Linked DNA regions of Homo sapiens. The protein of the gene in region 7 purifies or fractionates together with the protein of the main gene of each other region. This does not show direct contact. Each region holds a gene or a part of one and is shown on either strand. Other genes may lie near its edges.

Region 1 (4,333 bases), on a different chromosome or scaffold from region 7:
GCATGGAAAATTACACATATACTCATATGTATGTAAATTAATTAGCATAGAAACATAGAGACAGTTTTATCTTTTGGATGTTTTGCTTTACTATTGAGATAACTGGTGAATACATAAAATTACAGTATAACTAAAGTCAAACCATAGTATATATTACCCCTTTTACATTACAAAAACATAATACAGTTTGGCTACACAGAAAGAATTGACATTACATGCCAACCAAAATCTCACAACAGTCAATATCTTCATGTTCTATGAATTTTCAACTCTATACCACTTTCTTCTTCCAGAAAAAAAAAGGATTATTAAAGAATATAGCAATAAAAATCTATCCAAAAACGCCAAGGAAAACCTGATTTCTTAAGAAAGTAACTTCAATTACTATAAGATTCTCAATTTATGATTTAAGTATTTCTCTAGATATGTTTTATATCATACTGAACAATGCAAATTACCAACATATCTTTCAACCCAATTTCAACATTTTACCATATTTCTCATATTTTAGAAAAGATCAAACCTAAGTAATTTTTTAAATGTAGTCTTCACCAAAGATAAAATTAGAATCAAATGCAATAATATAGAAGAGAAATACTACAATGGGCACTGGAGATCATGACAAAAGAACTCAGGAACTTTGAAGTGTAGGAGTAGAGGTGATACTCAAGATATTTAGCTATTTAACAACTGGCAGGGCATAAGGACCATCTAGTCAGAATAGACGCTTGCTGTAGCAATGGGTCCAGAAACACTGGTAGAGTGTATTGGTAGATACCACCTGAGCATTGCTACCAGTTGATAGTAATGTTCAAATGCTATTGATTTTGTTTTCAGAAAAACTTTGCAATAACTAACCAGAAGCATCTCAATCTAGTTTCTCCATTTTGTCCCACATTCAACCTCTATCAATTACAGAGGAATGCATTTTCTGGTTGTACTCTAATACCCTGAGGACTGCAGTCATGTTAGATATACACTGGTGAATAATCTGCACATTATCTTGGGTAAATACATGCAAATATACACCTGTTAAAAAAACTGACTTCTCTGCACAAGCATATATCATGAGGCTCCAGTATGGAATTGAAATGAGTTAAAATGACTACATTATTGCAGGATTGATGTTAACACCACTCTCACACAGCTACCTCACATTTTTAATCTTCATTTACATGTTTTGATTTCACATACATTATTTCTTTTTTATTCTTTTCCTTTATCTTTCTTTCTCCTCTTTTCCCCCTCTCTCTCCTCTCCTTCTCTCTCTGTCTCTCGATCTCTCTCTCTCTCTCTCTCTCTCTCCAGGATCTCATCTGTTTGAGGATGCAGGAGTACAAATGCAGGGGTACAAATGCAGGGGTATGACCTTGGCCTCAACTGTTTCCGGGATGCAGGGGTACAAATGCAGGGGTACGACCTTGACTTCCTGGACTCCAGTGATTCACTTCAGTTTCTTGAGTAGCTGGGGCCACAGGTCACCACAACTAGCTAATTTTTTCTTTTTTTCATTTTAGTAGGGATGAAGTCTCACTATATTGCCCAGGCTGGTCTCAACCCCTGGATTCAAGCAGTTTGCCTGCCTCAGAATCCCAAAATGCTGGGATTACAGGCATAAGCCACCATGCCCAGCCTGATACATTATTTCTTATTTCCTTTTGATATTAATTCAGAAAACGTGAAAATCTACTATTTTCTAAATAAGGTATAAAAAGCAAACAGTGTAGAAAAGAAGACAGAAACAGAACCACCTATTATAGTCCCCTGGAAATAATGTCATAACACAGGTATTCTCAAAATGGTCTGGAATCACAGAGATTTCCCAGTAGAGTACATGTTCCATTTCATCTTCAAAGACAACCAGGAGTTAAACAAGAGAATAAAGAAAGAATGCAAAGAATTCCATCCTTGAAAAATGTACTTGCATAAAAATATAGTTCACTAGAGACTGGAAGACAAGATAAAATAAAAAATGATGGCCGGTAGTCCCAGCCACTCGGGGAGGCTGAGGCAGGAGAATCGTCTGAATCCATGAGGTGGAGGTTGCAGTGAGCTAAGACTGTGCCACTCCCCTCCAGCCTGGGTGACAGAGGGAGACTCCATGTCAAAAACACCAAAAAATCTGATTAAGGAGCTAATTAAATACTAAAGAGTATGAACATTGATCCCATGAAATGCCATAGAATTGTGCTACCCAATAGAACTTTCTGCAGTGATGGACATATTCTGCATTGTTCTGTCCAATACAGTTGCCACTAACAACATGTGATTATTTAGCCCTCAAAATGTGGCTAGTTGGCGGGTGAAGTGGCTCACACCTGTAATCCCAGCACTTTAGGAGGCCAAGGCAGGCAGATCACTTGAGCTCAAGAGTTCGAGACCAGCTTAGGCAACATGGCAAAACCAAATTTCTATAAAAAATACAATAAATAGCTGGGTGTGGTGGCGTGCGCCTGTAGTCCCACCTACTTGGGAGGCTGAGGTGGGAGGATGGCTTGAGCCCGGGAGGCAGAGGTTGCAGTGAGCTGAGCCAGACCTTGTCTCTAAATAAATAAAAGAAATGCAGCTAGTATATCTAATGGACTGGAATTTTACATTTTATTTTTCATTAACTTTGTTTGAGACAAGGTCTTGCTCTGTCATGAAAGGTGGAGTGCAGTAGTGTGATCATCACACACTGCAGTCTTAATATCCTAGGTTTGAGTGATCCTCCCACTTCAGCCTCCCAAACAGCTGGAACTTACAGGCCTGCACTGCTATACCCAGTATGTGTATATACATATATATTACACACACACATATATATACACACACACATATACCCCCTACACATGTGTGTGAATATTATACACACACACACACACACATATATATATATAAATATAATAAGCAGGATCTCACTATATTGCCCAAGCTGGTCTCAAACTCCTGGACTCAAGAGATCCTCCCACCTTGGCCTCCCAAAGTGCTGGGATTACAAACGTAAGCCACTGTGCCCAGGTAACATAAGTTTTTAAATAGCCACCTGTACCTACTGGCTACCATATTGGACAGTGTAGCAATAAAGGATTATAAGCACACACATAGTATGATAGATTTACATCTCAGAGGGAACACCATCTGTTCAGTGTTGAAGGTAAATTGAAAGAGAGACAGGTGAAGTGGAGAAAAGTTAGAAACAATAGCACAATAATCTAGTGATGTGAACCTAAACTAATGTAAGGTCAATTGAGCTCATAAAGCAGCAATATAGTCAAGAAATATTTAGCAATTGAAATTGGATGACTGTATGTGAATGGTAAGCAAAAGAGAGACATGGGATGACTTAGGTTTCTAGTTTGAGAAACTGTGTAGATGATGGTGTTATTCTCCTTATAAAGAGAGTACAGCAAGATTTGTCCAGGGATAAAAATACTGTTTCAAGCTTAAACTTGAAAACAAGTCTGAATCATCTATCCCGTAAGAAGTTGGCTGGCTATACATGTCTGTAACTCAGAAAGTAATTAACAGCTTAGAGGTGGCCATTAAGGAAATGAATTTTGGATGGATCACCCAGGGAACATGGACAGTGAAAGCAGGGCCCAGAAAACACTGTCAGTTGGGAGGTGAAAGTCATTCTCTTCCACAAAAATTCAATGCATCTCGTTGTATTCTAGGAATCAGATTGGGCCTTTAGGGACCAAAGATGAGTAAGACAGAGGCCCTGCTCTCCAGACATTAGCTTGTAGAAGAGTCCTAATTAGGAAGAAGAGTTCATGGAATAAGAAATTCATGAAGAAGCTAGGCAAGAAATACTCAAGGAGGTAAGAAGAAAATCAGAAGAGATGTCTCAGAAGTCAAAGTAAGAACCAGTGCACTGAGTGCTACAGAAAAGGGGAAAATATCCATGAAACTGAGACAATGTGCTTATTAACCATCTTCTGCATGAGTAATTCTAGAGTGGTAGAATTAGAAGCCAGACTACAAAAAGCATAAGAGAGAATGAAAGGCATGGAAATGGGAACATTTCAATGGAAAATCTCTCTCCTGTCCTATGACAAGAGCTTTATTTAGATTCCCTCCTTAATGTCTTCTTAGGTATCTTCCTTTCCCATATCTTCAATATTTCCTTCTGTACTTGCTCTTTCCCCACTAATGGCATTTAAACAAGACTGGATAGTTCATTCTTAAATGGACCCCTTTCTACAGCTCTCATCCAATACTTCTCCCTGCCTGCACAGTTAAGAGTGAAATGAAATATATCCAAGCAGAAAAGGTCAACTGAAAATAGATTCAGTTACAGGGCAAGTTTGTAAAAGATTTATGCTGATTAGAGATAAATATTTAGTCTTCT
Region 2 (4,333 bases), on a different chromosome or scaffold from region 7:
GCTGAGGCAGGAGGATCACTTGAGGTCAGGAGTTCGAGATCAGCCTGGCCAAATGCTGAAACCCCATCTCTACTAAAATACAAAAAAAATTAGCCAGGCATGGTGGCATGTAGTCTCAGCTACTCAGGAGGCTGAGGCAGGAGAATTGCTTGAACCTGGGAGGTAGAGGTTGCAGTGAGCCGAGATAGCCCCACTGCACTCCAGCCTGGGCAATAGAGCAAGACCCTGTCTAAATAAATAAATAAATAAACAGGCGGCCTACATTTTGTGACTCCTACCCACAAAAGCCACACACATGGCACCATCACGACTGTGAATAGAGGATTCCAGTTATGGTGTGGTGTGGTGTAGAATGTCTCGATTCAGAGTGGGTCCCACTTCAGTTAAAACAAGCAGCTTTGGAAAAGAATAGCTCTGCCCAGCCTGACTACAGGAAGCTTTCCCCACACATCTTTAGGGATGCACGAGGCTGGACCAGTTCACATCAGGGACTGGAAAAAGACTGAATATTTCAGGGACCAGGGAGGTTCCATGTCCACAGGAATCAGGCTGATCTTTTCTAAACTCTCTGCTCATTGATTAAAAGTAGCAAAATCAGCAACTCACTGGGTCTCCAGCAGTTCTGCCTGGTACAACCAGGAAGAGCCCAAGTCAGTGCAAGAAAGACAGATTTTGAGCTGCATTCTTTATTTCTAGTAGCTAAAGGTACAAGCTGTATAATTGTAAGCAGGTGGGAAGAACAGGAAGCGGGGAAGAACAAAGCTTGAAATGGGACAGTCGGAACATGTGGCTACAGTCCTGCCACTGTTGTGGTAAATGCTTTCTCCTCCTGAACTGCAAACTCCTTTGCCTATAAAATGCTAGGACTGGCCCAAAAGCTTTCAGGAAAAGTCTCTGCAAGCTCTGATGCTCCATATTTTTAACTACTCTTTAATCAGAAACATATTAACCAATTTTAAAAAGCCTTTAAACACATTTGTTTACAACACTGAAGACTTGAGTCATACATCTTGCTCATGGAGGATGTGATTGGCACAGTTTACATCAAAAGACTGTTTGCAATGGCTCACAAGTTAACTCCTTGAAGACAATTAAAGGCAAATGGAATGCACATTTGTCCCTTCTCTGAATCCATCTGAACTGCGGTGGGAAGCAGAATCTTGGAGTGTCCAGAAGAGCTGCCCAGTCCCCAAATTCATATCTACTGGGCTTGGAAATTATGAGACAAATTACAAATCAGGATCACAATATGAAAATTTATTTGCTCGCTGAGGGCGGTGGCTCACGCCTGTAATCCCAGCACTTTGGGAGGCCGAGGTGGGCAGATCACCTGAGGTCAGGAGTTCGACACCAGCTTGGCCAACATGGTGAAACCTCGTCTCTACCAAAAAATACAAAAAATAGCCAGGCATAGTGGTGCACGCCTGTAATCCCAGCTACTGAGGAGACTGAGACATGTGAATTGCTTGAACCCAGGAGGTGGAGGTTGCAGTGAGCCAAGATCACACTGCTGCACTCCAGCCTGGGTGACAGAGCAAGACTCTATCTCAAAAAAAAAGAAAAAAAAATTTGTTTGTCCTTCCATATTACCAGGCAGCACTAGAAAATCATTTTCAAATTTGCTCGGTAGCTGGACAAAACAGTTGGGGATTACAATTTTGCTCTAGATAATTTCTAAAGTGGATTACTCACCATGAGAATAGACTAAATTTCACAAGTCACAAAATGGAAGATAATGTTTTTGAAGTCCCAAACATGAGCCTGGTGTGGCTACAGCCTCAAAGCCGTTGGAGTATTTAACAGGGGAAAGAGCTCACTGGTTTTAAACAAGCCTCTTCCCCATGGCATAAGCAAAGCATTAAAAATAAGAATGGGATTTTTAAAAAAGCTTTTCATTTGCCATTTGCGTTTGGAAGATTGGAGTACTCACATCATTTCAGCCGAATTTCTAAGTATTACACTGTACGGCTAGTAACGTTCCACCCAAGTGATTGGCAAGGTATTATTACGATAATGTCCTCAATTTTCACATACAATATTTGAGCTGTTTGCTTTCTCAGAATACAAAACCCTGAGCTATTTTCTGTAATTATACCAGATGCATTTTAAGAAGCATTCTTAGTCTTGAAAAAAGGAAAGAAAACAATCCTGCAACTACTGAGGTCGGTTTGGTTTTTCTCCTGAGAACAGAGGAGTCACTGAATGTCACCTTCTTAATGGGCTCACAGTCAGCCCTTCGCTGGGTTAATTTGCTTAGCATGTTTTATGTAGCAGCCTTAGAATATTGCTCTGCACAGACTAGAGGGCTGGACATGGCTTGAGATTGTTGAAATCAATTCAATGGCACCCTTCCATCCAGAAAATTCAACTGCAGATGTTGAGAATGTGCTCCTGTCCGACTCAAGCTCCATGTGTCCAAGGCAGCTTGTGCTGGCGGAAGGCCAGATCTGCCATCCCCTCCTTGAGCCCCAGCCACCACCCCAGGCTTCCTCACCTCTCGGTGCCCCTAACCCTAGAGTCGCACAGGGCTCTGCTCTCAGAGCTTGGTTGATTTAATGCTCTGCTGCCACCTTGAAGTGTTTCATAATGTTTGAATGTGGGGCACACATTTTCATTTTGCACCGAGACCCACAAATTATGCAGCCAGTCCTGCGCCCCACTCCCCACGCCAAAGGCAGAGGAAATGTGAAGTTCTCCCTGCTCCCTGCCCACCTACCCTGCTTAAAATAGTGCTTGATTCACTCATTTCTTTTTGGCTTTGGAATTTCTAATGGCTCCCAACTGCCCCACACAGAATCCCACTCCTTTCTCAGCCCAGCACTTGGGGCCTCTTACAGCCTAGCCCAGCCCTGGTTTCCCCTGCCTCCTTAGTTCCACCCTCTCCTCGCCACCATCTCTTCCATCTCTAGTCTAGTCTTTGTTCCTGCTTCTGGGCCTGGTCTGCAGGTAGGACTCTGGGCACACCCCTCCCCACCATTTCTGGTGTTTTGTAACTTTCACCTAGGTAGCTACACTGCGCACTTGGCAGCCCACCACCAACACTTAACTGTACCAGCTCCCACTCCTTGCACTGACACCTTGGGGGCCTGCCTCCTCCTCTCAGCTGCAAGGCCCTTGTCCTGAGCTTTGAGCCCCCACGGACCAGGCAGAACTGGTCCACCTCAGCTACAGAAGAACAAACACTTCACCAACAATGGAGAAGTAAACAGTTATTCCAAACAATGTGGGTTCAAAAAAATCTAGAACAGCCTGATTCATCTGAAGCTAGTTTGGGCAGCTTGGATTATCCAGACAACAGCCTCAGTTCTCTTCCTTTCATGCACGTGGACGTGGCTACGTAGCCAGCAGAAGGGAAGAACACAGCCCATGACCTCGGCATCAACTCGGAGCTCCATCTGCGCACCAGTGCGTCCAACCTTTTCCCACACTCCCTACCTGGTATCTGTGAGAGGCTTTAACATGCCAGTTCCAAAAGAAGACACCTTGGCTCTCTACAGAGAAGTGCATGGCCTGAGGTAGGAGATAAGAGGAGGCCACATGGCTCATAAAATAGGATGACAGCCATGGTGGCTGTAGAGTTCCTGCTGCCAAGGGCGATTCTGACAAATGCACTTACGAAACCTGGCATTTAGACAGGCCAAAGTCCTCCCACTTGGTGGAAGAGGTCCTCTTTATTCTGTCTTCTTTAATATTTTCTTACTTGTTGAGCAACAGAAGGGAGAATAGAATAGGAAATTGTGGTTATCTGGGAACAGAGACATAGGGGAAGGGGACTGGGTTTTCCCCAGCTCACCCACCATGGATTTTCCAGACTCTCACCAATGAGTAAGAAGCAGAATTCCAGGAAGGACATAAGCTAGGACTGATACAAATATCAAACTCTTTGACTAAAGTAGTCTGCCCTACCTGTTGGTCAGTAGTCCTATGAAAGGGTTGGTGATGAGCTGGACGGTGGCTTTCGAGGCAAACAACAGACCAACTTGCACGTTTTCATTCAGGAGGTCTTTGTCTTCACTGGGACAGTCGGAAGGAACAGCGGACGCGTTGGTCACCATGTGCTGTGTGGCGGTCTGATGAAGTGTCAGGTCTCTGGTAGCATTCCCGGTGACCATAGTCGAGTTATCATAATAGGAGAAGATGCTCTGGAAGCTGTCTGAGATGGAGGCAGTGTGCACTGGCCTGGCCGTCTGGATTTCTGTAGCATTCTTCTCATGCTTAATGCTGTACAGATAACTTGGGATGATGGGGACTGGGGATAAGAGCAGAATGGCAAGGTGGTGATCACACTGAAACCCTCTCCAGGAAAAAAGCCAGCAAAAAACTATGGTTGTGT
Region 3 (4,022 bases), on a different chromosome or scaffold from region 7:
TGCTACCTGTGAGATGGCTGGGACACCGGCCCCACCTGTGTGTCAGATGAGCCCAGAATGGATAGGCCTGCCTGCCCACTGCTTCCCCAGCACCAGCACGGAACATGGTTCACATTCGGCTGTGTTGGCGTTCTTATTATTGTTGACAGGTTTTAAAGTAAAACAGACGTATTGATATTTCACCCCGGGTTAGTTTGCTAAAGCTGCCATAACAAAGTGCCACAGACAGGGTGGCTTCAACCACGTGTCTCCTCCCAGTCCTAGAGGCGAGAAGGCCCAGGTCAAGGTGGGGCAGGGCTGGCTTCTCCTCAGGCCTCTCTCCTTGGCTCACACAGATGACCACCTTCTCACTGTGTCCTCACGTGGTCTTTCCTCTGCATACCTCCTTGGTGTCTGTGTCCAAACCGTTTCATCTTCCAAGGACACCAGACAGATTGGATTAGAGCCCACCCTAACAACCACATTTGAACTTAATTACCATAGTCACATTCTAAGGTCCTGGGGGTAAGGGCTTCAACATAGAGATGTGGGGGAGACCGTTCAGCTCATAACACCCTCAGTACTTCCTGCACCTCTGAGAAAGGATATTTTCTTGCCTCATCACCACGGATTCCTCAACAATGATAGACACTGTCATGGGAGATCCAGCCTTTGTTGAAGTGGCGTCAGCCATCTCAGAGCTGCCTTCCTTGAGCCAGACCCAGCCATGGCTGTGGCACTGTGTGGCATTGGTTCACCCCGCACAGCAGCCCCTGCTAACTCTTTTGTGCCTGTGATGTGGGAGAGGTGGATGGACACCCACTGGCCTGCAGAATATCTGGCCTTCAGTATACAGGGAGGACTCGGGCTGGGAACTGCTTGGTTTCCCTGAGGGTGGAGAGCCAGGGGTGAGGGTGCAGAGTGGGCCATGTCTAGTGCCCACCTGCGTGGGCTGGGTCTGGGGCTCTCGGGGCTGTGGCTGGCAGCATAGATGGCTCCCAGGGCCAGGCCAGCCCCATCCTGGGGCCTGGTTTTGCTTTGTGGTGAGGGTCTGGGTGCTCAGCTGAGCCTGAGGGCCCTGTGAGATATGGGCAGTTTGCACCATGTCCCCTTGTGCGGAAGAGAACACTGAAGCCGAGGAATTGGCCAGAGTGCGGCCAAAAGTGACCTGCCCCACCCAAGGACTTCCACAACCCACTCTGGGGACGGGGGTTCATGCCAGCTGGGGTGGGCAGGCCCGTGTTTGTCCAGGTCTGTAGGGCCCTTCCCTGTGTCACCTCTATTGTCTTCCCGGGGGGGAGTTCTCCCTGCAGGCCCCAACCCTGACCTCTCTAGCAGTGCAGACAGCAGTTGTGAAGATGAAGTACAGTGAGACAGACACAACCACTGAGTGCAGAATACCACAGGCCGGGAGGAGCCGCGCACTTTGGAATGCAGTGGAGGGCAGGCAGCGGAGGGGAGTTCTGTGCCCTGTCTTGTGTTCCCACTCCTCCCTTCTCACGGCTGTTTTTCTTTCATTACTTCAGTAATTGAGCTGAAAGCTGAGGATCGGAGCAAGTTTCTGGACGCACTTATTTCCCTCCTGTCCTAGGGTGAGTTACAGGGGTTCTGCAGGGGTGGCTGCAGCAGCCCCCTCAGAGCCCGACCCTGATGCCCTGCTCTGTCCTCCCTCAACGGAGGCTTCTACTTGGGTTTCAGACCGAAGCAGGGTTCTTGAGATTGGAGCCAACACATTTTTCCCAAGCACATCTGTCCTTAGGCTGCCAGCAGGGCCACAATGGGGCATTTTGAGGCAGCTAATTTCATTAAGCCCCTGCGATCCCTTCAGAAAGAGCTGGTATTCACCCTCTGCTGACCACACTTGGGCTGGGCATCGCGTGTGACACATGTCACACACAGACTCCCTGGTGCTGCCCTCGAAGGCCACCTGGAGCCTCCTGTCCCACAGCCTTCGTGTCAGGCGCTGGGCAAGAGCCCGCAGAGCAGCCATCCGGGCTTTTGTGTGCTTGGCTCATGAGAAAGCAAAGCTGTTGGCAGCCGCTTAGCTGGGAATTCCAAAGCGCTGGTTCTGCTGGGGCCTTCACCAGCACACAGCTGTCCTGAGGGCCCCATTGGGATTCACTGGCAGGTCACTGTCCCGGGACACCTCCCACTGCCCCATGTGCTACCTCTTTCTTAAGGGTTCCCAGGAAATAGGCCTGCCTTGTGTCTTTGTAACCATCTCTCAGCCCAGGTTCCCCACAGGGAATGCCACATCCAGCCCTGCATCTCCCAGAGCCCTAGCCTGGAGGCTGCGGCTGTGGCAGATGGGCCCTGCCAAGACTCTGTTGCAGGAGGTCCCTCAGGCCAGGCCTGGGGTCCTCCCCACTCTCCCATCCGTCCGTCCATCCATCCATCTGTCCATCCCTCCAGGGGCAAGCACCTGTTCTCCTGTTGGGGCTGGAGTGGGGGTTTCTGCTGACAACAGCATAGGGGGCCTCAGGGACCCCACAGTTCCTCTCAGGGTGGCCTGGGCTACATGGGGCCCATTTTGGGCGCGGGGCTCTGAGTCAGACCCTCGGGGTTTTTGGCAAGTTCTGTAGGGTCATCAGCAGTGACCTTGGGCCAGCCACCTAATCAGGCTTAGCCTGTTTCCTCATCCAAAAATGGGGCCCACTCTCTCCTTAGACGATGAGTGTGAGCATCACAGGACTGCATAGGGTGGGGCGGAGGCAGAGGTGGGGCTCTCTGGCAGTGGAGTGGGTGCTAGAGGCAAACCCCTCCCCTGCAGCCTGCTTGGTGGTGATGTTATGCTGCTGTGTGTCCTTCCACTGAGGCAGGGGCACAGGTGGCCTGGGCTAGGAGGGCTGAGCAGCAGAGTGCCGAGGGATGGAGGGAGAGCCCCCATGGGAGGGTGCCAGGGGGCTGGCTGAGCAGCTGGGCGGGGTCCGTGAGGTAAGAAGGTGCCCGGGCCAGGGGGCAGGAGCTCTGATGTAGGACAGCTCAGCCCAGTCAAGGGGTGCTATGAGGACAGCAGGGGCCTCCGAGTCTGGGGTGGCCTCACCCCCACAAGCAGTCCTGGCTACTCAGCAGCACTACCCAGAGGGGACGCCTGGGCAGTTTCTTCAATTCGGTGGCACATCAACATCGTTTGAAACTTGTTTTTTCTTGTTTTGTTTTCTAGAATTTGATTCTTCCAGAATGACCTTCTTATTTATGTAACTGGCTTTCATTTAGATTGTAAGTTATGGACATGATTTGAGATGTAGAAGCCATTTTTTATTAAATAAAATGCTTATTTTAGGCTCCGTCCCCATTGTGGCTCTGGTCTCGAGGCCAGTGCTTGAGTGTGCTCTGAGCCTTCTGTGGGTCTTGGGCCCCAGGAGCCCTCAGTGCCTGGCAGGAAATCAGCATGGGGATTGGCCCCAAGGACAAGATCTCCTTACTCTGTCCTCCAGGCCCTCCGGGTGGCAGTGGACAGAGGTCAGGACCCCTCGGCATCCCCGCCTCCTCATAGCACCTGCACCGGCCACTGCCTGGTGGTGCCAGCCAGCACCTGGCTCTGTCCACCTACCACTTCCTCTGGTCCACCTGGCCTCAGCCACATAGCAAGTCCACCCTCTCAGCCATCCCTCCACCTGTGGGTCTCACCATCCAGCACTCTTTTCCAGGTCTTTGAAGGCAGGAGTGATTTGGGTAGGTTTTAAGTCAGTGGGGAAAAGCTCAGAAAGAGTGGCCTGGAAAAGAGCACACAGGTAGGTGGGGCTGGTCTTGGTGCAGCCCTTGGCAAAGGGCAGTGGGCACAAAAGGGTGAGAGCTGGACTGGAGGCTGGGCCCCTCCCCTCACCTCTGGTGGTTTGCACAGCTTCCCGGGACCCTTGAGCTGCCTACCCTGGCCATTTGGGAAAATTCAAAGGCTGTGCAGCTTCCTTTCCATGCCCTTTCTTTCCTTTTTTTGAGACAGAGTCTCGCTCTGTCACCAGACTAGAGTGCAGTTGGTGCGATCTCGGCACACTGCAACCTCTGCCTCCCGAGTTCAAGTGGTTCTCCTGTCTCAGCCTCCC
Region 4 (4,333 bases), on a different chromosome or scaffold from region 7:
CTTTAGTCAGATGAAGATAAGAAAAACATGGAACAAATAAAAATATGTACTAAGATAATAGATAAAAATTTAAAAATATCAGTAAACACTATAAATGTAATGCACTAAATTCACCAGTGAGAAGACACATGCATTCAAATCATTCGAAATTCAAATATATTAAGTACTTTTTATGTGCCCAGCACTGTTCTAGGAAATGGGGGTGTATAGCAGTGAACAGGCAAAAATTCCTTTTCTCACAGAGGTTACTTTCGGATCAGAGGAGACGGACAATAAATAATAAAAGATCTATATTGAATGGTATTAATAGTAAATATGAAAAAATAAAGCAAGCTAAGAGAATTAAAGAAGCAGGTAGAGGTGATAGAGGTTGCCATTTTAAAGTGCTCATAGATTACTTCAAAAACCTCAAGTAGTTGAGGAAGAGAGCCATATGTGTATCTAGGATATGAATGACCTAGGAAGAGAAAAAAAGTGCAAATCCCTGAGGCAGAAGTTGGCCAGATATGTTGGAGGAGCTGCAAGGAGGCCAGTGTGGCTAGAACAGAGTAACCGAGGAAGAGTATAGTAGGAGATGGGGTCACAGAAATAACAAGGGACTTCTGTAGATCACTGCAAGAACTTTAGCATTTACCATAAATGAGATTTTTAAAACCACTGAAAGCTTTTGCAAGTACAAGAAAGGCATGACCTGATTTGCATTTTAAAAAATCATCTGGCTTCTGTCTTGAAAATAAAATGTGAGATAAATCGGGGAGACCGGTTAGGAGGTTATTGCAATAATTTAGGTGAGAAATGGTGGTAGCTTGGAGGAGGATACTATGGTAGAATTGCTGAGATGTATTTGAAATCGGAATATAATTTGAAACTACAGTGGACAGATGGCTTTGGATTGGAAGTGAGAAATGAGAGAGAAATGAATCGAGGATGTCTCCAAGGTTTTGGGCCTGAGCAACATAAAGGATGGAATTGCCCCTTTTATGAGATTGAATAAACTTCAGGAAGAGCAAACTTGCAGAGAGAAATTATGATTTTGGTTTGGAATGTAATATGTTTAGACAACCAAAAGGAAATGGTGTGAAGGCTGATAAAGTATCTGGAATTCATGAGAGATGTCTAAATTGGAGATGTAAATTTGAGAGTCGTCAGTGTTTTTAAAATGAAGGCATAAACTTTTGCATTTGCTTCAGCCAAAAGGAAGGATTGAGGAAGGAAATAAATGCTGCAGACTAAGAAGAAACTGTGTGTGTTCAGCATCTTTATTTTGTATTGGAGAAATTTACTGATAACTCCTTGAGAAAAAGTAGGACCTTATGCCTCTGAGAGCTGACATTCATTGAGATGGTTTGGGGCCTACACGCTCACTGACTTCTTGTCAGAGGATAAAATCTTATTGCTTGGTTCATTTAATTAATAGATACCAGTTAATGTGCTTGTTGTTTATTTCTCAAGTATATTACTTTCTATTTCTGATTAATAGTTCATATCTGAATATGGCTATGAATTACCCATACCCTAAATATTAACCTATGCCAACAGATAAAGAGGTGGCAGTTTTATGGTTATGACAAGTTTACAACTCTGTGAAGTAAGCCAGCATCTACTTGTGCAAACAATCCCTATACATTTGTTAACCTGGCACACTATCTTCTGGCTAACTCCAGAATGAATTAATGAATAATATATATTGATATGTGCTCAATCGACTTGTCTGAGAAATTTTGCTTTAAGAACTGCCGTAAGACTGGATAAGATCATCTAGATGTAGAGAGATAAGCCCCAGGGATGTACCCTGGTAGACTTCAAAGTTTGAGGTCAGGGATTAAAGGAAGAACCATCAAAGAAGGGAGTTACTAGTTTACTAGGTAACCAGCACCCTTCATAAATATGTATTTAATCCTTGCCAAAACCACATGATTCGGTGTTAGCATCATTATCCTCAACTTCAGAGAATCATAACTGAGGCTCTACAAAGTGAAGTGGCTTGCCCAAGGATCATACATACCAAGACTGTAATCCAATTTTAGCCCATTTAATCTGCCTTTTCTTATGCTTGCCTCCACTGCCAGTGATGTGTGTGAATGACTTTATGATGGCAGCTGATGTGATGTTTTTCAGGTTTTCTGGTTTCCTTTCAGGTGGGCATCTGGAGGTTTTGGAGTCAACTAAAGAAACTCCAGACCTAGGGGTCTCTAAGACAAGTTCCATCTCGGAGGAGATATATGATGATGTCGAGTACTCCAGGAAAGAGGTGTAAGTAACATTCCAGTCTTTCAGCAAGATGAATGTGATGAGACTTTAAAGGTACAATAATGGTCTTTGTTATTTTCTCCCATAGACCGAAGCTGAACTACTCTAGCTCACTTGCCTCAAGTAGTGGTAAGTATAGGAAGACATTTCTGAAGTTGCCAGTAGGAATTGCAGAATGCTTCTATGGCTGATTAGTGATAAGATGTCTTTTAATTATTCATATTTTAATAATGCCAATTTGTGGGAAGCTAAGAGAAGCAATACCAAGATATGTGCTAACAGCAATACCAAGGTATGTGCTAATAAATGCATTTAGAATCAGGAACATGAAGATGCTGGTAAGAGCATTCTTATGGTAAAAGTGAGTTTACTTCCTTCCTGATCTTTTCACAGTGTAAGTCTGATTATAGGACTGTTTTTACTTAAAACACTTTCTTGGCTTTCCAATACTTTTAAGATTGGCTTCTGACATGATCTAGAGTCCTTGACTAACCTACCCCTACAGACCTCTGGAGCCTCATCTCACACTGTACTCAATCTTCATCTTTGAGACCCAGTTATGCTGACCTTCTTTTAGCTTGTATAATTTGCCAAGCTCCAACAGCAGGATATTTTCATATGCTTTTCCCTCCCTTTCCGGAATGCTCTTTCCTCCCCTGGGTACCTTTGTTTCACTGACTCTTAATCTTCTAATCTCAGCTCAATCATTATTTCCACAGGGAATATTCTCCTTGGTGTACAATCTCATAGTACCATGGACTTCTTTTTCATAGTACTTGTCACAGTTGTAATTTTATACTTATGTGACTTTTTAATTAATGTCTCCCCTCCTAGATTATTACCTTCTTTATACATACCATTTTCTCCAGCCCCTAGCATAATGCCAAGTACATGTTAGATATTCAAAAAAATCTGTTGAATGAAGGAATTCATGAATGAAAAAGTAATGGGGAGGTATTGGTCAAAGGATACAAAATTTCAATTAGGAGAAGTACCTTCAGGAAGTTTATAGTACAACAGTGATTATAGTTAATAACAAAAGTATTATATACTTGAAAATTGCTGAGAGTAGATTTTAAAATTCTCACCACAAAAAATATGTGAGGTAATGAATACATTAACTGGCTTGACTTAGTCATTCCACTATGTATACAATTATCAAAACATGTTATATATCATAAGTATATATAATTATTATTTGTCAATTTTAAAATAAATTTTAGAAAAAGAAAAAGCAATGGAGTGGAGAGAATCAAATGTTACTCTGATTGATCTTAGAATCTCAGAAGTTTAGAGGGAAAAACAACCTTAAATATCATTAAACCCAGTACACTCATTTTAAAAAGAAAATTGAAACATAGAGAAGTGACTCCTCTAAGATCATTGTGTGTTAAAGTTGAGTTTTGAACCTAAAAATCCTGACCCTGATATTCAAAATTCTTTCCATTAGACTCTGTTTCAGGATTGAATTAAAGTATAACTGTGTATGTTAAGCTTATGTGTTGGGCTAGGCCAAAGCCATGCTGTGAAGGGAGAGATTATTCAAGATATATCTCATTTTCCATGGTTGCCCCAGCATTCAGCGCAATGCCTGATGCTTAGTAAATTCTGATTGTTATGTATTAAATACAGGAAGGAGGGAGGGTGGAAGGAAGGAATCTATTGAAGAACCAACTTTCTTTGACTAAATCAGTTCAAATTTGGAATCAGGTGGAAATGAGTCTTAATTTTCATTTATACATACTTTTATAGAGGTTTAAGTATTTTTACCATATGCTTTTAAAAACATGTGGGTGAGTTTCAGTAAAAACTATTTAACAAAAGAAAGATCAAAGTACCTAGCATCTAGTAAGTATCTAATACTTTTTGTTAAATATGAATCTGAACTATTGCTATTATAATGAATATAAGTAGGGTTTTCTTCTAATTTCAGAAGAAAATAGAGAACTGTATGAAGATGTCTACAAAACAAAGAACAACTACCCAAAGATAGAGTGAGTTTCTCTCTTTCTTGGCTTTGTAGGCTAATGACTTCCTGTTAGTCTAGTAAAGCCAGAGTTTCAGTGAGGACCCACCATCCGCC
Region 5 (4,333 bases), on a different chromosome or scaffold from region 7:
GAGCCTATAAAATTAGAATACCTCCTTTAGCAGGTTGTTGCGAGGATTAAATGAGCTACAAAGATGCAGTGCCTGGCCAAATATCCGTTTCCATCCCTATGAAGAAAAGGAAGCTTGAAGTTTGACCAGGAAGTCTGGGGAAATTCTCAGACTTGTCTTCGATTAGAACGCAGGATATGGTTGCAGGGCAGGCTCAGAGACCTGAATTTGCTCAGCTCAGGCTGCTGTGTGGGTCACACTCCCCTAGTCTCATAGCCTCTAGAATCAGTCTGCTTGGGGACACCGGCAAGGGGCTCTGGATTCTTACCCCCTCCCTTGGCTTCCTGCTGGCAGGGCTGTGGTGCCTGGAGCTGGTGTCCATTCCCTCGGGCCCATTGTCTGACCTCCCTAGGCACCAAGGTGCAGTGAATAATTAATACTCCCCTCAGCTGGGGGCAGGCTCAGGGAAATAGCTCTATGTTCAGTGAGCTTCTGAACCCTACCAGAGGAGGTGGGGGCTCCTGTCTGTGCTGTTAGCAGTCTTGGATATGGGGGGGCAGGCAGGATAGGACAGGGAGAAAGTGTCATCTGGCCCCCAACAGGAGAGAGCTGGGGTTGATGATGTCCTGTCTCTTCTGTTGGGGGCCAGATGGTCCCACAGGCAACACTGGGAACCAAGCTAGCTGAGCTAGGATCAAGTGGGCCTCTGATTCCAGAGAGGTGGTGACGGGGAGGAGTAAGGGGGAGGGTACAGGGCAGAAAGGGGTGGAGGGGAGGCCCTTGAGGACTGGAGTAACCAGGAAGGCTTTGTCAGGGAGGTGGCTGTCTGGGCAGGAGCTAGAGGAAACTTGCTGCAAAGACGGGGGGTCCTGACATCCCTCCAAGAAGGAATCCTGGCTGTGCCACCGCCTCACTGAGAGCATGGGAAAGACACATGATCCCATCAGGCCTCCATTTCCCCCTTTGTGAAATGACGGTTGTGATGTCCACTTCTCAAGGCTGTTAAGGATCATCTTGAGGTCCCATGTGTGAAACACACGGCACTTTAGGCACTCAACAAGGGGGTGCCTCATCATGAGTGTGAGCTAGTGGGCTAGTGGCGGGGCAGGTGGGATAGCGTGGTAAGCCGAGAGGTAGGGAGAACTTGGGGCGAGGAGGATGGCTTGGTGGGGTTAGTGAGGGGTGAATGCCCATATAGGAGAGGGCCTTGAATGTTAGACAGAACTCACATTTCAGAAAGCTTAATGGAGCCCCCATTTAGAAGCCTCTGTGGCTCCTTACGGCCTGTAAGATGAAGACCAGGCCCTAGTTATGGCATTCAGGTCCTTGGTCACCTTAGCCTCTGCCCGGCCTTCTGGCTCATTGCTCTGCACTGTCTCCTAAACACACCACATGTGGCCCCATCACAGCCCCTTTGTTTGTGGTTCCTCCCATCAGAACCGCCATCCCTGCCTCTGCTCCACTTACCTCCCCACCTGTCAAGACCTGACTGAGGTCATAAATTCCCTCAGAAACATTCCTGGATTACCCAACCCTCTGGTCATGCCCCCTCTGAATCTTTAACATTCAGCAGTAATAGTAAAAAATAATACCTACTATCCATAACATTTTGCAGTTTGTAAAATGTATCCACACAATACTACAGTGATGATATCAACAACAGCTGATATCTTGAGTACTTACTATGAGCCAGACAATGTGCTAAATGTTTTATAGACACTCTTGTTCACACAAACTCCCTGAGGTAGCTACTGTTATCCCCTAGAAACTGGGGCTCAGAGAGGTACCTGATCTTGCCCGAGGTCACACAGCTCAAAGGTAGGGAGCAGGGAGCCAAGCTGCATCTGTTTGAATTGTAAATCTGTGCTTAGAAGATGTCCTGTCTCCTCACCTCCACCCAAGTACCTTGAAAGCATACTTTGTGTGTAAAAAGCCTGGACAAGGTTTTTTCTCAAGGCTAAGGAAGGGCAGTGTTGGACTGAGCATGGGGCCCAGGAAGGACCTGGGCCCTAGGCCGTGCACAGGCTGGCTGGTTGTCTGTGTGACCTGGGGTGAGTCGGCCCCTCTCTGGGGTCCCGTGTGTCCATGTCTATGGGGAGCAGGGTGGGTTCTGAGCTCCCCTGTAGCTCCAGCTTTCTACATCGTCTTTCGTGACCCTGGAGGGAGGAGGAGGAGACCACAGCACCAGGGCCAGAGGATGTGGTATGACGGGCAGCTGTGATTTTTGGCCTGGCCACTGTCTGGGCCAGCAGGCTGTGTGGGTAGCTGCCTCGCCCAAAGGAGGGTGGTGGCCTGAGCTGCAGGCAGCATGGTCATTAGCTGGCAGAGGAGACCCTGTGATTGGGAACTGGCTGGGCCAGGCCAGGCCAAGTTGGCGGGACTGGAGGCAGGCTGGCCGGGCCACAGCGGGGTCACTGGCAGGGCAGCCAGCTTCTCCTCCCTTTGCCCCCTTTGGGGTGGTGGCAAACACACACTGGGCACCAGAGCTTTGTAGGCCAAGGCTTACCCTTTCTCCTGCTGTGACCATGGGAAAGAGCAGTAAGGAGTTCAACCAGGTCCAAAGATGCTGCCTGCTATAAGCTTCCAGTACTCCTCCCATGCAGGTGGGATCCAAGCCTCCTCTGCTGCTGATTCATGGCCCTCTGCACACTGACTGTGGTCTGTGGATTGGGGTTCTGCTTGGTCTGCTTCCCTTGCTGGCTTGTCAAAACTAGATTCTATGTGCCCCCACCGAATCCTCCCCTCCCTCTGAGTGCCTAGCAGTGTGCCTGGCACAGAGCCACACCCTCCGGGCCAGGGGAGGCAGTGCAAGCTGCCCCATGGACAACTTGCTCAACTTTTGCACCTCTGTTTTTTCCCTGTACATTGGGGCTGATAATAACTGTTATTAAATGAGATGAAGGAAGTGGGGTGCCTGTCCAGGCCTGGCACACAGGTGGGTACTCCATCAGCATGAGTCTTCTTGCCCATCCCCTCGATGGCTTCGTGAACGAGCAACTCAGTAAGAAGCTGATGGAAGAGTCCAGTGAGTGATGGCTGGAGGGAGGGCGTGCCAGATGGCAGGGAGGCCTTCCCTTAGGGGGACTTAGCTGGGGTTTGCAGATTCACAGTTCCCACCACCTTCCCTGTGAACAGTGGTGTGTAAGCAGGTGCTGTTGGCCTGGAAGGGTCCCGAGCTAGGTTCAGGGGAGGGAGCAGGACTGGGATATCTGGGGACTTGGGTTTTCTTCTCAGGCCTACGCAGAAGAAATGACCCAGGTGGGAGAAGCCGTCTGGCGTCCAGCTAGCAGATGCTGGGCAGAGAGTGTGAGTTCTTCCTTAAAGGGAAGCAGCATTTATTTGGTGCTGCTCACACACACATCCAACCGAAATGTAACATGGTTGGAGATTCTGGTCTGTGGGGGAAACAGCATTAGACAAGGAAACACACAGATGCAAAACTTCCAAATTGTGAGAAGCAGGCTCCTGAGGCAGGGGCCGGTCCCATCAGTATCTGTGGCTGGTGGCACAGGGTAGGGCTAAATGACTTGGGCAAGTGATTTAACCTCTTTGGGCTTTAGTTTCCCCATATGTAAAATGGGGATAATTACAGCATCTTCATCATAGAGTTGTGAGGGTGAAATGAATTATACGTGTAAAGCACTCAAAAAAATGCCCAGCACATAATGAGCACTCAGTGCAGGTTAGCTGTTATGATCTGTATCTCCAGCACCTCACAGAGGATCTTAGAGAAAACAGGTGCTCAGGAAAGGCGTTTGGAATGAATCCCAGGCAAAGGGCAGCTGCTCCGTGGAATGAATGAATGAACAGCCTGGTAGGGTTGGGAGGACACAGAAGCAGTGACAACACAGAATGTGACAGGGAAGGCCAGGGGCCTGGGGTTGCCCGGCGCTGGGTGGGGAGGGGAGTCAGGGAAGCCTTCCTGGAGGTGGTGCCCATGTTGCTGACTTTGGACCTCTGTGAGATCAGCACTGAATGAGCTGAGAGAGGAGTAGCTCCTCTCCAAAGGTAGCTGGCAAGGAGGAGAGCTTGGGCAGACCCCAGGACCAGTGGACTCCACAGGCCTCTCACTTCCCACCAACCCACACCATCTCTCCATCTGTGACATTCTGCTTTCAGGGCATGAGGAAGGCGGAAAGGCAGGTGGGGAGGAAGTGTGGGCTGCTGGTCTGACAGGCTCAGCTCTTCCCAGGCTTGTGACCAAATCTCCTGCAGAAAAGGATAAACAGGCCTGCTTTGAGTTCTTTTATCTTCTTGCTCCCAAGGCACACCAGCAAGCAGAGGGGGTCTTCCAGCGTTAATCCTGCAGCTGTTTAGCTTTTGAACGAGTGGACTCTTTAAAAAAAATGCCACG
Region 6 (3,947 bases), on a different chromosome or scaffold from region 7:
GGCACAAAAGCCCCAAAGCCCCAATAGGACAGGGTTCAAAAGAGAAGGCAGCAATCCCAGGCTGGAGTATCCACTTCAGGTCCACTAAAGGGAGATGGGGAAGGTGGCCTGTCCAGAAGCCTGTGGGACAGGGTAAAGGTCAGCTGGGTGACTAGGCTGTCCATCCTAGAGAGCAACTCTGGGTTCTACTGCCAGACCCACAGGTGAGCCAGGCCACAGTGCACTGGAGGTAGGCATCAGGGAGCAGTCTGACCCAACCCACAAAAGGGGGGATGGGGCCTGAGTCATCGGACGGAGGGCAGCTGTGACCTGGCACAGAAGCATGGGGCTGGGCCAGGACATCCAGGGACTTCTCACATCTGACCAGAATCAAGACTGAAAATGGGTTTCTTCTGCCAGCTCACTTGCTTTGCTACCAGGGCTATACCTGCTTTCTAAAAATAGCTTCCCACCTATTTCCAAGGTTTCCAGTTGTTTTACCTACAAGGTATCTGTGCCCTGAAATAACTCACACATAAAACCATCTGAACCCAGAGCCTTTTCTAGTGATAGTTACCATAAAATAATCCCAACAATTTATATTTTTCTAAATAAGGTTTTTGTTTTTTGTTGTTTTTTTTTTTTTGGGATGGAGTTTCACTCTTGTTGTCCAGGCTGGAGTGCAATGGCGTGATCTCGGCTCACCACACCCTCTGCCTCCTGGGTTCAAGCAATTCTTCTGCCTCAGCCTCCCAAGTAGCTGAGATTACAGGCATGCACCACCACACTTGGCTAATTTTGTATTTTTAGGAGAGATGGATTTCTCCATGCTGGTCAGGCTGGTCTTGAACTCCTGACCTCAGGTGATCCACCCACCTTGGCCTCCCAGAGTGCTGGGATTACAGGTGTGAGACACTGCTCCCGGCCAGTTTCTGAATAAGTTTAATCAGATGCTTGCTAATTAGTTTTTCCTAAAATAGTTGGCTGTATTTCCAATTCACATTTCTGCTTTTTCTTCCTACTTTCCAGGAAGGTGTTGTTTTGTTGTTTTCACAATTGTAAACCTGAAAGGGACTTGAACTTCTTGTCCAAGCACCAGAGTGGGCACACACTGCACACACTGGGCGGCTGTACCTGCCTATCCTGTGGTAAACTTGGCTCCAGGAGCTTCCAAGCTCAGCTTCCACTAGAAAACCCCTCCTTGTGTGGAACAGGTCTTTCTTCATTCCATTCCTCTGGGCCTGGGGCCTCACAGCTCTGGACTGCTGCCTGGTCCTCACTTCACCTACAGCTCTCGGAAGTCAGTTCTCTACCTGCAGAGCCACCCACCCCCTACTCAGCCCCACCCAGCTTCTTTGATCAGACCCTTGGACCCTCAAAGCCCCTGCCAGAAACCACAGCTGCAATGCTGACCTGGAATGCTCATGGCCAGGCCTCTGCTCCTGACAGAATGGGAAACAAAGACTTGCTGGTAGGCAGCCACTGCACCACCTCAGCCAGTAATCCAACACGTGTTTAATGAGCACCAATTGTGTACCAGGCCACAGAGCTGACTAAGACAGAGCCCCTGTGCTGAGGGTCACAGTCTGCCAGGAGGGAGATCCAAGTCATTTACACACTAGGGCTTAAGTGCTGAATCCGCAATGCATGCGAGTGCGGAGTGAGCAGGGGATGGCAGCACAGCAGCAGGGAAGAGGAGCCTGCTTCAGAACACCAGGCACGATTAGAGCTACAGTGTTAACACACAAAGGGCGAATGCCTGCAGCTGAGCCTGGCAAGGGGCTTGCATCCCACCTTCCTGCATCCAAACCTTCCAGCTGCCCAGAACTGCTGGTAATCCCACAGGAAACATCATTCTTTGCCAAGATGCTATCCCACTCATCCCCCAGAATCAAAGTGGCCACTTCCTCCAGGCAGCCTTCCTCACATTCCAGCTGGGACAGAAGTCACAGGGAGCAGAGAGGGTGGGGCTAGGGGGACAGACACAGAAACCCCATACAGGAACGAGGTCCCAACAGGGCAGACGTGGCAGACCCAGTTCAGTCCCAGCCAGTGTGGAAGACACCAAGGGGGGTGTTTTATGGGGGTGGAGGTGACAAAGATGATGCAACTATCTGCTGAGAGTTGATCTACAAAACGACCCCCTCGTGGGAGCAGGCCTGGGTGAGACGGCACTCCCAGAAGACGGGCAGGGATGCAGCAGAGAGCCAGCAGCAGGGAAAGGGCACAGGGCGGAGGTCAAGCTCTGCTGGAGTTGGGGGAGCTGGTTCTGCTCAGCGCAGAGTCCAAAACAAGCGCATCTTGCCCAGCTATGGGGTCTGAAGTCATCTGGGGACACCACTCTGCTCTGACTGGGGACTATGGGGCGCTCAAGCCACACAGGCCACTTCATCATGAGGGGCAGCATTGTTCCCACCTGGGCTGTGTTCAGAACCCAGGAGAAAGTGGTGGCTCTCCTGGGGTCTCCGGGGCCTCCACCACCTCCTGTGGGGTACCTAAGGACACCTCCTGGTCTCCCTCTGTCTCCAAAACCTCCTCCTCTGTTTTCTGGGGTTTTGGACCTCCTGGATGAGCTGGGTCTGGTCTCTGGGCAGGAGGATTAGCTGACTCCGACAGTCTAGGGACAGGTGTGGGGGCTGCCTCCTCTGGCTGGGAAGAGGCTGGTTCCACAGGACCAGGCTTGGAGCTACATGTAGAACTGGGCAGGACTGGGGGCTCCTTGGGCCCAGGGGTGCTCTCCTTGGTCAGCTGCTGCTCGAACAGAGCACTTCTAGATACAGAGTTGGACCCAGACACAGCAGGGGTGGCCATGGCGGCTGGTAAAGACCTGGGGGCAGTACCCATGTCGAGTGCCAGGCCCTCTAAGAACCTAGCTAAGTATTGCCTCACCACAGGCAGCTGAGGGGCCACTGGCAGCTGGCTGGAGGCCAGGGGCAGGGGACAGGTAACCACAGCATGGTACTCAGCAAAACTGTTCGGGTCTTGAACAACTTCCTTGAGATCCTGGCAGAAGAGCTCGTAATCGTCAGGCAGGGGCAGGTCCCCATCAAGGTAGGGGGCTGCCCAGGCCTGGGCTCGGCCTGTTAGGCGCCTGAGGATCTCGCAGACACGGCTGATGTTGTCCTGATAGTGCTCAAAGTGGAAGGACATGTAATCGCCCAGCTGGGCCAAGAAGCGGTCCAGTAGCCACGGGGAGCCATCAAAGGTGCCTGGGTCTGAGCCTGGTACCCAGCAGAAGTCCACCCTGTGGGGTCGGGAGCTGGGCATGTGCCCAGCTAGGGGACCCCTTTCTGCAGGTTTACCGCCACAAGTGCCACTAGCTGTGCTCTTCTGCTCCATGGTCGTTCGCACACACACGGTGTCCCCACAGCAGGGCCGCTCAATCCAGGGATCCACAAGGGGGGTGTATGCCACCCCAGGAGACGCCTTGTCCATCTGCTGCCATGGATGTGCGTTGGCATAATTGGCGGCTGCCCAGATGGGAATGCGAGGGCCCTGCTGACGGCACCGGCCACGAGGCATGCTGGGAGCACAGGGGAGAAGAGAGGAGAGCCAGCACTGGTGGGTGGTGGGGGTGTGGACAGATGTGGCTTGCACGACACAACAGGACAGGGATGGCTGAACAGGGCGTGGCAGACCCGCACTGGTCCAGGCAAGTGCTGAGGATCAGGGAGCTGACAGCTGCAGCCTCAGGAGAGCTGAGAAGAGCTGAGAGACTGTCAGTCGCAGGCCATCATCCGAGGCAATCTGTCCAAAGACAAGGTGGGGAAGAGCAGGAACTAGGCCTAACCATCACCCACTGGACTGGTGGGAAGAGGCTACAAGCGGGCAACCCTCTGGTACCCAACTAGGAGCTTTGAATGGAAGGAGGGGCCCAGGGGGCTGGCCTGGGAGGTCTGAGGTGGGCAAATGCTGCCTATGACATTGCAAGGGCAAGGCAGAATGACAGATGCTGTCAATTTCAGAAG
Region 7 (4,333 bases):
CCCTGTCCATGTTTTAATTAAAGATCGACCCTGTCCCTTATTACAGACACCTGGAGTTTTTGTCTACCTGCCATCCCTTTCCCCTTCCTGCTGCAGAATTCTTTCTTTGGGGGAAATCCATTCTGTGTGTACTGTGTAGACGTAATCCAGGCGAGGCCAGAGAACTCAGCTGTGTAGCAACAGTAACTGATTCAGGGCTGAGCAGAAGAACCAAGCCCTTCCTCTTCTTTTGAGAGGGAGTCTCACTCTGTCGCCCAGGCTGGAGTGCAGTGGCACAATCTGAGCTCACCGCAATCTCTGCTTCCTGGGTTCAAGCGATTCTCCTGCCTCAGCCTCCCAGGTAGCTGGGATTACAAGCCCTTGCCACCACGCCCGGCTAATTTTTGTATTTTTTAGTAAACACGGGGTTTCACGATGTTGGCCAGGCTGGTCTCGAACTCCTGGCCTCAGGTGATCCGCCCACCTTGGCCTCTCAAACTGTTGGGATTACAGGCATGAGCCACTGCGCCAGGCCGAACAAAGCCATTCCTAAGAACTTTTTGTTAAGCTAGTGCACATGGGTTGTTACCATATCCACCACTTGGAGAAAGACCGTCTGAAAGAAATCAAGGACAGCAAGGCTTGAATATACTGATTACGTGGTGTGAATCCTGGGAGTCAGCCAGTCTACCTGAAGCAAACTCATGTCAAGCTATCCTATTTTCCACATCCCCTTATGCTGCCTGGGGGAGGCCTGACTTGTTTTTCTGTCACCCGCAACCACAAGAGTTAAAGGATTTTTCAGAGAATGTCTAAAGTTATTTTCCCCCAAAATACCCTGAATCTGTTACCTCTTGAGGCCAGAACTCTCTTCCTCCTTGCTGGTCTTCCAGATAGTCACGGATGATGTTTGTTTTCTGCAAAAACAGGCCCATAGAGTTGGCACGTTCTGTATCTTCACCAACTAAGGGGTCTTCAAACTCTGAGGCTGAGAAAAGACGGGAAAGGCCAATTCCGACCAGCCCAGCAACATAGTGGCAGTACTGTAAGAGACGATTTTTAAAGCACTTTAATAATGGAATTTTTACTGAAATGGACACACTAGAGATCATTAGCTACAAAAAAGCAGGTTCAAAAGAGAATGGGTAAGAATGCATTTTGATTTTAAAATACAAATATACATACCAGGATTTAAAAAACATTCAAGAAGGATGTGCTCAAAACATTTCATAGCAGTCTCTGGCTGACGGGAATTTGATGTTTTTATTTTTCACTTGTATTTTCCAAATTTCTACAATACACATGTACTGCTACTATAATAAAAGGCTACTGAAAAAAACTAGTAAACATTTTTTTATTTTTATTTTTTATTTTTTTTTTGAGATGGAGTCTCATATATTTGCCCACGTTAGACTCAAACTACTGGACCCAAGCAATCTTTCTGCCTCAGCTTCCCGAACAGCTGGGATTGTAGGCAAATACCACCGTGTCTAGCTTTACAATAACTTTTTTTTTTTTTTTTTTTTTGAGATCAAGTCTCACTTTGTCCCCTGGGCTGGAGTGCACTGGCACAATCTCAACTCACTGCAACCTCTGCCTCTTGGGTTCAAGTGATTCTCCTGCCTCAGCTTCCTGAGTAGCTGGAATTAAAGCACCCACCACCACATCCAGCTAATTTTTTATTTTTAGTAGAGACGGGGTTTCACCATGTTGGCCACGCTGGTCTCGAACTCCTGACCTCAACTGATCTGCCAGCCTTGGCCTCCCAAAGTGCTGGGATTACCAGCCCAAGACACCGTGCCCGCCCTAGCTTTACAATAAACTTTTTGATACATAAAACTATGAGAGAAGGCAACGATGAAAGATGGAATATTCTGGTAACAGGAACTAGGACAATACCAACTATGGTTTAATCTTTTTTTGACCAATCTGATAACATGTCAAGATCCGCAGGCCCTCAAAATCATCATTATATGAAAGAACAAATAACTATTTTATGTTCTTGACACGGTTTTAAGAACTCTGCACATTCAGCCGGGCACGATGGCTCATGCCTGTAATCCCAGCACTTTGGGAAGCTGAGACGGGCGGATCACGAGATCAGGAGATCAAGACCATCCTGGCTAAGACGGTGAAACCCCGTCTCTACTAAAAATACAAAAAAATTAGCTGGCCTGGTGGCGGGTGCCTGTAGTCCCAGCTACTCAGAAGGCTAAGGCAGGAGAATGGCGTGAACCCAGGAGGTGGAGCTTGCAGGGAGCCGAGATCGCGCCACTGCACTCCAGCCTGGGCGACAGAGTGAGACTCCGTCTCAAAACAACAACAACAGAAAAAAAGAACTCTGCACATTCAATCCTCACAAACATTGTATCAGGTACATAGCAGTATGATCTCCATTTCAGATGAGGAAACTGAGGCACAAAGAAGTCGATTTAACTTGCCCAACATTGCCCATGTGAGAAAAAAAAAAAATTAGCCAGGCACAGTGACACAGGCCAGTGGTCCCAGTTACTCAGGGGGCTGAAGTAGGAGGCTCGCTTGAACCCAGGAAGGTTCAAGGGGCTGCCGTGTCTGTGGCAGGGGCTAAGAGTTCAAAACTAGGTAGTATGACTTAAGTGTCAGGCTTTAACAACTTTGCTAAAACTTCCCCTTTTCTTTTTAGTTTTTCTTTTAGAGACAACGTAACTTCCCCTCTCTCAACAGAGATTTCAGTAAATGCAACTCTTAATTGCCAAATACTTTTTTTTTCCGCGACAGCAATTTGTCAAAAGCTGTCCTCCTCTGAAAAGGGTATCCTAAGACAACTTAATGCAATATCCACATACAATAATTGTCTATTAGTTAACTTAAGAAGCAAAAGTAAAGAAGGTAAGCTCTGGAGTGTCATTAGGAAGGGTAAAAGTTAGGAAATGACCGAAGTTCACGCCTGTAATCCCGGAATTTTGGGAGGCTGTGGAGAGGGGACTGCTTGAGCCCAAGAGTTTTAGACCAGCCTGGCCAACAAAGCAAGACCTCATCTCTGTAAAAAATTTTAAAAGGCTGAGTGTAGTGGCTCACACCTGGGAGGCTAAGGCAGGTGAATCGCTTGAGCCCAGGAGCTCAAGACCAGCCTAGGCAACACGATGAAACCCTGTCTCTACCAAAAAATTACAAAAATTAGCCTGGTGTAGTGGTGTGGACCTATAGTCCCAGCTAATGGGGAGGCTGAGGTGAGAGGACTGCTTGAGCACAGGAGGTGAAGGCTGCAGTGAGCCTTGATCATGCCACTACACTCCAGCCTGGGTGACAGAGCAATACCCTGTCTCAAAAATAATAAAAATTAAAATAAATTAGCCAGGCATGGTGGCAACGTGCCTGTGGTCCCAGTTACTCAGGAGGCTGAGGGCAAGGAAGATTGCTTGAGCCCAGAAGGTCAAGGCTGCCTTGTCTGTGCCACTGCATTCCAGTCTGGGTGACAGAGTGAGACCCTGTCTCAAAAAAAAAAAGTCGTCTCTGACTGAAAGTAATACAAAGCCAGAGACTAATCAGGGGGAAGAATGCACAGGTGAAGAGAAAGCACTTGAAATTTGTTCTGGGACAAAAGTAACATGAAAAGAGTGAAATCTTGCTGAAATTAGGTAGACAGAAATTGGCTTTGGACAGCTATACAAAATCTTCAAAAGAATTACTAGAAATTTAAAAAAAAATTAGTATATCTATAGTACTATCCAAAAATATATTTGAAGATAATAGTTCTTTTGGTAGAAATACTCCTAAAATGGAGACTTATATAATTCATCTTCCCCCAAAGTAGAAGAAAAAAAATAACTCCTTGAAATAATTGGCTGGTCATGCCTGTAATCCCAACATTTGAGAGGCCAGAGTGGGAGGACTGTTTGATGCCAGGAGTTTGAGACTAGCCTGGGCAACATGGCAAAACCCTCTCTCTACAAAAAATGTACAAAAATGAGCCTGGTATGGTGTCATGCACTGTAGTTACAGCTACTCGGTAGGCTGAGGTGGGAGGATCACCTGAGCCCAGGAGGTTGAGGCTGCGGGGAGCCGTGATCACACCACTACACACCAGCCTGGATAACAGCAAGACCCTGTCTCAAAAAAAATTTTTTTTAATTCAATTTTATCTGATCAAAACTTCTATTCAACAACCTAAAATTAAGTTTCCTGAATAAATCTGCACAACAGAAAATGAGTTACTATCATAACCAGTGCTGGTTCTTGGCCAGAAGTTTTAACTTCAACTTTATTTTCTTTCAGATGGTGTCTTGCTCTGTCACCCACGTTGGAGTGCAGTGGCACAATCATGGCTCACTGCAACCTTCAACTCTTGGGCTCAAGCAATCCTCCCACACCTCAG

The links.
Region 1: the proteins of FDFT1 (region 7) and FAM174A purify together in Homo sapiens (co-immunoprecipitation; one large-scale study listed by IntAct). This does not show direct contact.
Region 2: the proteins of FDFT1 (region 7) and SLC18A2 purify together in Homo sapiens (co-immunoprecipitation; one large-scale study listed by IntAct). This does not show direct contact.
Region 3: the proteins of FDFT1 (region 7) and CDC45 purify together in Homo sapiens (affinity purification with mass spectrometry; one large-scale study listed by BioGRID and IntAct). This does not show direct contact.
Region 4: the proteins of FDFT1 (region 7) and FYB2 purify together in Homo sapiens (co-immunoprecipitation; one large-scale study listed by IntAct). This does not show direct contact.
Region 5: the proteins of FDFT1 (region 7) and GDPD5 purify together in Homo sapiens (affinity purification with mass spectrometry; one large-scale study listed by BioGRID and IntAct). This does not show direct contact.
Region 6: the proteins of FDFT1 (region 7) and RTL10 purify together in Homo sapiens (affinity purification with mass spectrometry; one large-scale study listed by BioGRID and IntAct). This does not show direct contact.

What each region holds. Positions count from the first base shown.
Region 1 is NC_000005.10:100,541,381-100,545,713, reverse strand, and holds part of FAM174A (membrane protein FAM174A precursor), read right to left. Parts: intron 1-4,333.
Region 2 is NC_000010.11:117,243,887-117,248,219, reverse strand, and holds part of SLC18A2 (synaptic vesicular amine transporter), read right to left. Parts: intron 4,250-4,333; coding exon 3,907-4,249; intron 1-3,906. UniProt on the Homo sapiens protein: Electrogenic antiporter that exchanges one cationic monoamine with two intravesicular protons across the membrane of secretory and synaptic vesicles.
Region 3 is NC_000022.11:19,517,339-19,521,360, forward strand, and holds the end of CDC45 (cell division control protein 45 homolog), read left to right. Parts: intron 1-1,505; coding exon 1,506-1,570; 3' UTR 1,571-1,571; intron 1,572-3,142; 3' UTR 3,143-3,270; downstream 3,271-4,022. UniProt on the Homo sapiens protein: Required for initiation of chromosomal DNA replication. Core component of CDC45-MCM-GINS (CMG) helicase, the molecular machine that unwinds template DNA during replication, and around which the replisome is built.
Region 4 is NC_000001.11:56,742,072-56,746,404, reverse strand, and holds part of FYB2 (FYN-binding protein 2), read left to right. Parts: intron 1-2,138; coding exon 2,139-2,253; intron 2,254-2,338; coding exon 2,339-2,379; intron 2,380-4,183; coding exon 4,184-4,244; intron 4,245-4,333. UniProt on the Homo sapiens protein: Adapter protein that plays a role in T-cell receptor (TCR)-mediated activation of signaling pathways. Required for T-cell activation and integrin-mediated T-cell adhesion in response to TCR stimulation.
Region 5 is NC_000011.10:75,518,870-75,523,202, reverse strand, and holds part of GDPD5 (glycerophosphodiester phosphodiesterase domain-containing protein 5), read left to right. Parts: intron 1-1,345; exon of another isoform or gene 1,346-4,188; intron 4,189-4,333. UniProt on the Homo sapiens protein: Glycerophosphodiester phosphodiesterase that promotes neurite formation and drives spinal motor neuron differentiation.
Region 6 is NC_000022.11:19,848,761-19,852,707, forward strand, and holds part of RTL10 (protein Bop), read right to left. Parts: intron 3,727-3,947; 5' UTR 3,502-3,726; coding exon 2,407-3,501; 3' UTR 1-2,406. UniProt on the Homo sapiens protein: Could induce apoptosis in a BH3 domain-dependent manner. The direct interaction network of Bcl-2 family members may play a key role in modulation RTL10/BOP intrinsic apoptotic signaling activity.
Region 7 is NC_000008.11:11,822,713-11,827,045, reverse strand, and holds part of FDFT1 (squalene synthase), read right to left. Parts: intron 1,023-4,333; coding exon 831-1,022; intron 1-830. UniProt on the Homo sapiens protein: Catalyzes the condensation of 2 farnesyl pyrophosphate (FPP) moieties to form squalene. Proceeds in two distinct steps.